Linked DNA regions of Homo sapiens. The protein of the gene in region 3 purifies or fractionates together with the protein of the main gene of each other region. This does not show direct contact. Each region holds a gene or a part of one and is shown on either strand. Other genes may lie near its edges.

Region 1 (3,500 bases), on a different chromosome or scaffold from region 3:
AGTGGAGCTACATTTGTGATCACAGCTGTGTGATAACAGGAGTCATTTCAGGCCTCCTGGTGCCTTGGTTGTAAAATAGTTCTTTCCTTAAATGCAACTGGGAGCTATTTAAAAGTGGGCTATAAAATGCCCAGGGTTAGCAGGTGGAGCCTATGTGTCCTAGCTGTGTGAGGCTAGTCCTGCCCTTTCCAAACTCACGCTCAAAGTTTGACCAAACTCAGGAAGGCTAGTGTTTGTAAGATTCTTTCTTTGTTTTTATTATTTTTTCTATCCCTGTTGAAGTTAACATGTTTATAAGATTCTTCGGATAAAAGAACTTACGTTCAAAATCAGTAACATATTGGGCTAATGTTTGTAAAACACCGTGAGGGACATGGAAGACAAGGAGTGGGTCATTTTAACTTGGAATACAGACTCATACAAAGAATATCTGATAACTATACTCTGGTATATAAAAAGCATTGGGACATTTGTGTTTTCTCTGTTTTAATGGAATTTGATATTTGTAAGAGCTGTCTCACATTCTACGAGGATTCACTGTGGAGTGATTTAAATTATTTGGGGCTTATAAAGCCAGATGGACTGATTGGAGAAGTTTTAGCTCAGTTTTGAAGGAAGGCCAGGGTTAGAGTATACCTGGAGGTGAGGAGAGTGTGTTCCCAGGCAGGCACGTGGCATGTTGGAAGCCATGAAGCAGACCCGGTGAGCTTTGTACACAGGTTCGGGAGGGAGAGAGAATCTCTGCTCATCCCCGAGAGAAGCATATCCAGAGAGGAGCAGTGCCACTTTGACTCCTTGGGGCCTGATGTCCCCTGAGTTTCCCTCACTTCAGCTACTTTTACACCCCAGGACATGTGTTGCTCACCCCTCACCCCAAGTTCTGTCCCAAATATAGCCCCAAACACCTTCTCTATACAACATCTGCCACAAGTGGAAGTTTTCAATAGCTTACAAAACTTAGAATAAATAAGAAATAAACTTAGAAATACCCCAACACAAAAATGGTCTGGCACACAAAATCTAGTTTCTGAACCTGCCAAAGTTGGCTGTCCTATTCTGTTTTTGAGATGGCTGACACAGCTTTTTATGTCCATAGTCTGGTTTCCTGTTTTTAAGCCCCCAATATGTTTGACATAGAGGTGCCAGACTAACTGGTTACCATGGGATGTTTACTAGTAGAAACTCTTACAACTCATGTTTAGGCACTGGAGGTAGATTGAAACAAAATTCATAGGCTGAGGGCTACCACATATATGGCAAAATGCTCACACTGTTGGATCTTAAGTGGAGGGTATGGGGATATTCATTGTAGTCTTTCAACTTTTTCATTTTTAAAAAAATTAATAGTGGGGAAAATAGGAGGAGGGGTATGGCAATTAGGAAGTAACTTAAACTTCTGAGAAAAGGCGGAATCTTCAAAACAGGATGCTTTTAGGAAATCTTTTTTTGTTTGTTGTTTTTTGAGACAGTTTTGCTCTTGTTGCCCAGGCTGGAGTGCAATAGTGCGATCTCAGCTCACCGCAACCTCTGCCTCCCAGGTTCAAGCGATTCTCCTGCCTCAGCCTCCCTAGTAGCTGGGATTACAGGCGTGTGCCACCAGGCCTGGCTAATTTTGTATTTGTAGTAGAGACGGGGTTTCTCCATGTTGGTCAGGCTGGTCTCGAATTCCCGACCTCAGGTGATCCGCCTGCCTCGGCCTCCCAAGGTGCTGGGATTACAGGCATGAGCCACTGCGCCTGGCCTAGAACATCTTTTTTTTCTGTTGAGAAAAGGATTACTCAGTGCCATCTATAAAATCTATTCTACCTTCTTTTTTTTTTTTTTTTTTTTGCGGCAGAGTTTCGCTCTGTCACCCAGGCTGGAGTGCAATTGCGTGGTCTCAGCTCACTGCAACCTCCGCCTCCCGGGTTCAAGTGATTCTCCTGCCTCAGCCTCCCAAGTAGCTGGGATTACAGGCACCCGCCACCACACCTGGCTAATTTTTGTATTTTTAGTAGAGATGGGGTTTCACTGTGTTGGCCAGGCTGGTCTCGAACTCCTGACCTGGTGATCCACCCACCTCGGCCTCTCAAAGAGCTGGGATTACAGGTGGGAGCCACTGCACCCGGCCTGTCCTACCTTCTTTAATCGTATGTGCTACAAAACCATCTTCCATGAGATACAAAGTTGAAAATTAAAGCTGTATTCTAAGAAACTAGCCCCAGACTACCATATTTGTCTCCTAATGTCCTGCATTATGTATTTAGAAGTGCTTGTCTTTGGGAAGGAGTGAACGGGCAAGAGATGTGGCAGAGGGAGTATTAAAGGAGGTCCCTGTAAGATACTGGGGAGAGCTGTTGGGGAAGAATATTTCTGAGCCTGGAAGAGACTTCCCAGGCCATTCTGCAGCTCAGGGCTGGTTTTCTCCATTGTAGGTGTGATGGCTGTGAAGCAGTTCTACTGGGCATCGAGCAGCAAGTTCTGAGAGCCAACCAGTACAAAGAGAACCACAACCGAACTCAGCAGCAGGTAGAAGCAGAGGTAAGGAAGGAAAGGAACATTTGTTTCTCTCTCCAGGCATACCTGTTTATTCGTTTGCAGTGTTTATGTTTTTGTTTTGCGAATCTTGGTGTAGATGAAACAAGCAGTCACCAACAAGTGGGCCTGGGCTAGGTGCTGGGTTACAGGGATGAGTGTGACACGGCTCCTGCTCTTGGTGTTCTGTCTCTTTTTTCTGATTCCTGGTCAGCATAGGGTGATCAATCAGGCTTGGAGAACAGAGAATGTTGTAGTTTCAGTACACATGTACTTTGCAGCTATAGAGCAAAAGAAAATGAGTTTGGGGATGGATCTTAAAAATGGATAGAAGGATGGTGGTAAGTTACCAGGTGGAGTGGAGGGAGGGGTACAGCTGGGCAGGGGCATGTGGGGCTTCAAGGCCCTGGGAGTGTTCTGCTTCTTAAGTTGCGTGGTGGGCACATAGTTTCATTTTATTCTTTCTCTGTGAACTGTACATATATATTATAAATGTGTAAAATGCATGACATGTTTCATACGGAAAGAAGAAAGGGATAAAATTTGGCAGATGAGCTGCAAGTGAAGTAAAGAGGATGTAAGTGTGGTTTTAGTGACACCTGGTTGTTGAGGAAACTTTTAGCTTCTTGGACAGATGTAGGCCCCAGCCTTTGCGTTATGGGCATTTGTGTACCTGTAACCTGACACATGAAGTGACCTCACTTCACAATTTATTTGGAGCCCTGCACTGATTTTCCTTAGCATTGGAAGTTCTTTTCTAGTGTGAATGGAGTTTGAAGTATTAATGATGCTTAATGAATTTTGAAAATCAGGTGTCTAAGAGTGGCGGAGTGGGACCCGTAATTCCAGCTAAGAAGCATAAGAGATGAGTAGATGGTGCCTTTCAAAGGGGGATTTGTGAAATTTGGAGTGATTCTCTATACTGTTATATGCACTCCTTGAAAATAAAACCTGTGTCCTATTTGTAAGACGAGCGTCTTGTCTCA
Region 2 (3,500 bases), on a different chromosome or scaffold from region 3:
AAAGGTACTCCTAAATAATCTTTTTTTTTTTGAGATGGAGTCTTGCTCTGTCGCCCAGGCACTGGAGTGCAATGGCACTATCTCAGCTCTCTGCAACTTCTGCGTCCTGGGTTCAAGCAATTCTCCTGCTTCAGTCTGATGAGTAGCTGGGATTACAGGTGCCTGCCACCACACCCGGCTAATTTTTGTATTTTAGTAGAGACGGGGTTTCACCATGTTGGCCAGGCTGTCTCAAACTCCTGACCTCAAGCAATCCAATCTCCTTGGCTTCCCAAAGTTCGGGGATTACAGGCGTGAGCCACTGTGCTTGGCCTGATCCTTTCTTTAGCTACAAGGTTGAGCTATGGAGAATATGAGAGTATGAAATATTTTTGGAAGAAAAATTCTGGGAGGAAGGGTCTTTTCTGAGAAAGTGTCATTAAATAGGAAAAGTATAATTTCCCTTTTGAGCTAGAATTGTATTTGCAATTAGAAGCTTCTCGTTGCAGAAGTCGTTCTTTGACATTATTCTTTGTTCCTTAAGATTTCCATGAGGACAACTTACAAGGACCTGTATGGCCTCATTTTAGCTGCTTCAGTGTGTTGGAGCTGTTACTTGCTCCTTCATTTCCTGGGCCTGGTGTGACAGTGGCTACTGAGCGCCATGAAGGTTGTCCCAGAAAAGAATGCTGTCCGGATACTCTGGGGGCGAGAACGGGGTGCTCGGGCCATGGGAGCTCAGCGGCTTCTGCAGGAGCTGGTAGAAGATAAAACCCGGTGGATGAAATGGGAGGGCAAGGTAAGGAAAATGGCTATATTTCACATAGGATTTGTGCTGGTGATGGTAGAATGAGACCTTAGAATGGGTTAACAGCAGAGAGTTGGGATATATTTATCTTGTGTGGGAGAGTTGACATATCTGACTTAGGGAGTTGTTTGTAAATTTGAAAGAACTAATGTGCTAGAAATATCTTTTTCCTTTAGAGCTAGACAGTTTTCCTGAAGGTAATTTAGGTTTATCTCTCTCAATTTGTAGCTTGATCATTGTCTCCAGTTTTTAAGCCTACACTGTGAATGCTAATCTAGAATGGTTAATGTGCTTTTGAGATACGGTGAACCATGGTCTACAAATCATGTATTTTAACTTTTTTTTTTTTTTTGTCTCCCAGAGAGTAGAACTGCCGGATAGTCCACGCTCTACCTTCTTATTGGCCTTCAGCCCAGACAGGTACTCAGTATTTATCTATAACTTAAGATTTGTGATAACAGTGCTTTCTGTATATTTGGCCTGGCTTGATCTTCCAAGTCAGTCCCTAAAGTCTCTCTGAAGTACTGTATGAACAGCACTTTGGCCCCGTGTCGGAAAGGGAAAGAAAGTAGATGAGCAGTGCTAACCTGAAAAATCATGAGAACAAGCAAAGGAAACTGAGAGGATCAAAACTTGGAAAGTTTCTCAATAACAATCATTTGCCTGTGTGATACAGCTCACCAGTGGTATGATGGTTTTTCCAGTGGGAAAAAATATTTTCCGAATGTGGCATGTGTCATTTGGGGACAGTGTGGACAAGCCAAAAGCTTTTAAAGATCAGAATATTTCTGTTTGTAGATATACTGCCTAACATACAAAGCTTAGTTTCTTTCATGTTGGGATTGGCAGGTAGCATCAATATTCTATGTCGTCCAAAGTTGATAAGATTGGTTACCCTTCCACATGCTTCTGAATTCAGTTCTACTCTTTGATTTTCTAGGACTCTCTTAGCCTCCACCCATGTGAACCATAATATCTATATTACGGAGGTGAAGACTGGCAAGTGTGTTCATTCCCTGATTGGACACCGCCGTACTCCATGGTGTGTCACTTTTCATCCCACCATCTCAGGCCTTATTGCTTCTGGCTGCCTAGATGGGGAGGTTAGGATTTGGGATTTACACGTGAGTATTTCCTTAAGATACCCTTTTCTTTTGGTGTTCTAATTTTTTTTTTTTGAGACGGAGTCTCGCTCTGTTGCCCAGTGGTGTGATCTTGGCTCGCTGCAACCTCCGTCTCCCAGGTTCAAGTGATACTTCTGCTTCAGCCTCCCAAGTAGCTGGGATTACAGGCATGTGCCATCATGCCTGGCTCATTTTTGTGTTTTTAGTAGAGACGGGGATTCACTATGTTGGCCAGGCTGATCTTGAACTCCTGACCTCAAGTGGTCTGCCTGCCTCGGCCTCCCAAAGTGCTGGGATTACAGGCATGAGCCACCATGCCCGGCTTCTTTTGGTATTCTAAATGCAGAGACTTGTTTACCATTGGTTTTTTAATTCTGGAAGAGCCTAGCCAGATTCTTAGGACTACATCTGAATATATTGTTGTAGACATTGCCCACTTAATTAATAGGAAGTCTAATTCCCTGTCTTCCATTCCTTTTTTTTTTTTTTGCAATAGCTTAAGCATGCCCTGAGATTGTCTTCCATTCTTGCTAAGATGAACATCTACTTTTGCTTCCTTCAGCCCGTTGTGACATAGTACAGGAGGCTCTAAGATATGTTCAGGTTGGATTTCTGTTGTCTTAGGGCATCTTTGCCTAAGTACAGATATTCCTGTACTCCGATCATGATCATCAAAGCAAGATCCTCTTTGTCCTAGTAACTGGCTAGCGGGTTGTCTTGCACCATGTTGTGCACCGAGCTTGAGTTTTTCTCAGGCTTTGCATGGAACTGTGGGCTGGGCGCGGTGGCTCACGCCTGTATTCCTAGCACTTCAGGAGACCAAGACAGGAGGATTGCTTGAGTTCAGGAGTTTGAGACCAGCCTGGGCAGGATATTATACCAAAAATATTATACACAAAATTATATAAAATTAGCTGAGCATGGTGCCATGCGCCTGTGGTCCCAGCTACTTGGGAGGCTGAGGTGCGAGGATTGCTTGAGCCTAGGAGGCAGAGGTTGCAGTGTGCTGAGATTGTGCCACTGCACTCCAGCCTGGGTGACAGAATGAAACCCCCTGTCAAAAAAAAAAAAAAAAAAAAGAAATAGGAACTGTGTATATATGCTTAATGCTTGTAGATTGTGACTAATTTGAAGAACTGAACTGATTGTATAGTATTTATCTGATAAATTAGTGGCACTACCAGATCGCTGATCTTCTACATCTTTTTACAGAGGATGTATTTAAAGTAGTCCCTAGACATAGTCATTTTACCTTAAATGGACCTTTCTTGAAATTGACTTCCCAGTGTGCTGGTAGCTTGTAACCTGAGAATATCTGGAATTGGTTCATTCACAGGGTGGCAGTGAAAGCTGGTTCACAGATAGCAACAATGCCATTGCCTCCCTGGCTTTCCACCCTACGGCTCAGCTCCTGCTGATTGCCACTGCCAATGAGATCCACTTCTGGGACTGGAGTCGACGGGAACCCTTTGCTGTGGTGAAGACAGCTAGTGAGATGGAACGGGTCCGGTGAGTGCGCTGCCCCATCTGCATTGTCTGGCACAGGACTGACGTGATAGAGAACATTCTACTGGCTGTCACCTTGGAAG
Region 3 (3,500 bases):
ATACAATATCAAAAAAATCCTGGCAACACTGTACACTATAGGGTCTCAGTAGTTTATCCTCGTGATTGCATGGCTGACTGGGAGCTGTGGCTCACTGCTGCTCCCTAACCAGCATCACAAGAGTATAATACTGCGTTTTGCTAGCCCAGGAAAATATCAAAATTTAAAACTTGAAGTACAGTTTCTACTGAATGTGTACCACTTTCACACTATCATAAAATTGAAAAATTATAAGTCAAAACATCAACAGTCAGGGAATGTCTGTATTTATGATAAAAACTATATCCCCTAAAACCTCTGCTACTTGTGAAATGTTTCAGATAAAAAACAGAGAGAACTATGAAATTAGTCCAGCTTAGGAAAACCTTTACTCCTCCCTAATTGTATCTCCTTCCGTCTCTGCTATAGATAATCAGCACCCAGAAAGCAATGATTATAATTCCCATATGTTGCTTTATCCTTTTATTCCATATGAGAGCTTCCCTAAATAAAACATAGTATTGTTTTGCATGTTTCACCACAAACACACATACACCTGATCCTTACACTCAAGAGAGCATTATGACATGTTCAAGGGGAGATCTTTGTCAAGATGCTGGCACGGTATTTGGTGTGTCATTCACAGTGCCAGTGTTTGCTTCCTTCCCATCTCACCTCTTCTGATCTTTAACAGGGATGTTGTTTCATAATCTGGATAGCATCACTATATTTTAGTGAGTATTTGGGAATGTAAGGGAACCACACACACTCATCTATATTATGTAGGAGGTTAGGTGCCATCTCTGTGCTATGCAATGTGATGAAGTTGGGATGAGGGATGAGTACTCACTCTTTTCTATTGTATGATGGTATGGTAGTGAGTTACACTTAGTGAACCTTACCTTGCTCATCAATAAAATTAGCATATTGCTATTTACCTCACAGGAGTGTTATGAGAAATGAGCAAAACTAAAGAAACCATCTGATACATAATACTTCAATAAATATATATTTGGTCTCCCCTCTGTTTTCCCTTCCTCAAAAGACTTAAACATGAACATCCCACAGAGATTATTTAAATTTGAAACATTGGGAAAGGAAACAAACATACTCATATGTTATAGAACCTTTGGTGACATTTCTTTGTGGATGAGATACCTGAGAATGGTGGAAGTTTGGGATCAAATAATCACTTCGTTACTTTTTATTTGATGTGTTCTTCTATTCCTTTTTACCTTCCATTTTGACACTGGAATAGAAACCTTTGTTTCAACCCCAGAAAGGAGGCAGTACAGAATAAAAGAGCATAAAGATGAGTATTCTGTACAACAGACTGAACAGGAGACCTGGGGACTGAATGCCAGACCTGTCCTTGTCTAGAAGACACTTTCCCTGAGCTGGACACAGCCCTTATTCAGAAAAAGATTGTATATCCCAATGGTTAGGGATGGTGACTTGAGAGTCAGAGTTTAGTTTGAACTTGGAATCATTTAATAACTCATTTCATGCTGTCTGGCAAATCTTGAATGTCTCAATATATTAGACTCACATGCAATGAATGTACATTATGATGCATACATACAGAGTATAATGGGGGTAATATACAAACATAATACTCTTTTTTTAAGTTAATGAGTAATAGGATTACTTGATTAATTATATATTTATTTCTGGACATAACTATATTTTTCACAACTTCTAAATTGATACAAATCATTTTTATAATCAGAACTAGTCATAGAAACATTTATTGTTCTGAAATATTTTAGACATAAAGAAACTTACAAAAAGAATATACTGTATATACTCATATTAAGAAATAAACCATTATATGTACAACTGAAATTCACTTAAAGTCTGGGCTGGGTGCAGTGGCTCACACCTGTAATCCTTGTACTCTGGGAGGTTGAGACGGGTGGATCACTTGAGACCAGGAGTTTGAGACCAGCCTGGGCAACATGGTGAAACCCCATCTGTACAAAAAAATACAAAAATTAGTTGAGCATAGTGGTACAGGACTGTAGCCCCAGTTACTTGGGAGGCTGAGGTGGGAGGATCACCTGAGCCAGGGAGGTCAAGGCTGTGCTGAGCCATAATTGTACCACTGCACTCCAGCCTCGGTGACAGAGTAAGACCCTGTCTTAACAACAAAAAAAAGAAATTCAAAGTTTCTTCAGCTTGCATTAGCCTCCTTCTTACAAAGGAGTAATCATTAACAAGCATTTAGACTTTTCACTATTTATCCTTTGTTACATATGTATATATTTCTGCATGAAATATGGTGTTATTTTGTTGCGTGTTTTATCTGTAGTTGTCTGGCTATCTGACGGAAAGGAGAAAGGAAGAAACATGAGAAGAACAAATACCCATTCATATCTCAACACTGTGACCTGCCATATATGCCTCTTTACATGTGTACTGTCTTTCAGAGCTACTAAACCAGACACACCACTTTTCCAGTTTACATGCTATAGAGAGCACTAACAGAATTGGTACATATCATTTTTCAGTCATTTAAAAAAAATGTGATGTGTTCAAAGTCTTAAGAGTTTCCCAGGTGACAGCCAGCCCAAAACAATGTTGCAATGTGTCTGTGTGTGTGTGTGTGTGTGTGTTTTCTTGAGACAGGAGCTCTTTAGCCTCCTTATGTTGCTCAGGCTGGAGTGCAGTGGCTATTAACAGGCACAATCACAGCACGCTACAGCCTAGAACTCCTGGGCTCAAGTGTTTCTCTCACTTCAGCCTCCCAAGTAGCTGGGATTTGCAGTGTATCTCGAATGTGAAATATCTTCCCATTGTCCAGGCATAATTTCCCAACTTTTATTCATGCTATTACACATCTATGTCTGTAAATCTGGAACTAATCTGGGCAGTCTTGGTGAAAAAAAGTCAGTGATTGCCAGGAGTTGGTTTTTATGTGTCCAATCTACTATCCAAATCCCTCGGTTAGTTTAGGTATGCATCCCATTTAGAACTTGATATGATTTGTTATTACATGTGATTGGCATGTGTATATTTTCTTTCGGTTTAATATTTTTAATTGTATAAGTGAGGTACTTCATACGTGTGTTGATTACTCCTGGGGCCCTGGGCCGAGTGAGACTGTGACTCTACTTTTACCCTGAATCCCGCTGTGTTAGGATTCTGTCCTCTGGAAGCTGTGGTGCTGAGCCCTAGTGGTTTCATGCAGTCCCTCCCCTTTCCCTCCCCTGTGGCAGTCACTGCTTGGCCAACTAGGTGGGTAAACAGAGGAGCCTGCTGTCAATTCAAAGGACTTTATTTGTGCTAGTGCAGAAAGAAGCATGTTGTGAAACCACTTTCATCTCATGACCTTCACTAAAATCTTGAAAAGTAGAAATGTCATCTGGCTGTTGAATGTGAGGTTCATCTGAGAGACGTGCTTGCCCTTCCCCCGGGTGTCTGTAATTTCCCTAAACCTGCCCACCTGGGGATGTCATGTATATAGATTCATACTTTAATTCTAGGACCACCCTAGTACCTAATTGTCTTGGCTTACACAT

The links. The genes of interacting proteins can lie anywhere in the genome.
Region 1: the proteins of RAB40A (region 3) and COPS7B purify together in Homo sapiens (affinity purification with mass spectrometry; one large-scale study listed by BioGRID and IntAct). This does not show direct contact.
Region 2: the proteins of RAB40A (region 3) and AMBRA1 purify together in Homo sapiens (affinity purification with mass spectrometry; one large-scale study listed by BioGRID and IntAct). This does not show direct contact.

Annotation. Positions count from the first base shown.
Region 1 is NC_000002.12:231,796,445-231,799,944, forward strand, and holds part of COPS7B (COP9 signalosome complex subunit 7b), read left to right. Parts: intron 1-2,414; coding exon 2,415-2,520; intron 2,521-3,500. UniProt on the Homo sapiens protein: Component of the COP9 signalosome complex (CSN), a complex involved in various cellular and developmental processes.
Region 2 is NC_000011.10:46,545,524-46,549,023, reverse strand, and holds part of AMBRA1 (activating molecule in BECN1-regulated autophagy protein 1), read left to right. Parts: intron 1-523; 5' UTR 524-643; coding exon 644-778; intron 779-1,148; coding exon 1,149-1,207; intron 1,208-1,727; coding exon 1,728-1,911; intron 1,912-3,247; coding exon 3,248-3,420; intron 3,421-3,500. UniProt on the Homo sapiens protein: Substrate-recognition component of a DCX (DDB1-CUL4-X-box) E3 ubiquitin-protein ligase complex involved in cell cycle control and autophagy.
Region 3 is NC_000023.11:103,512,990-103,516,489, reverse strand, and holds part of RAB40A (ras-related protein Rab-40A), read left to right. Parts: intron 1-3,500.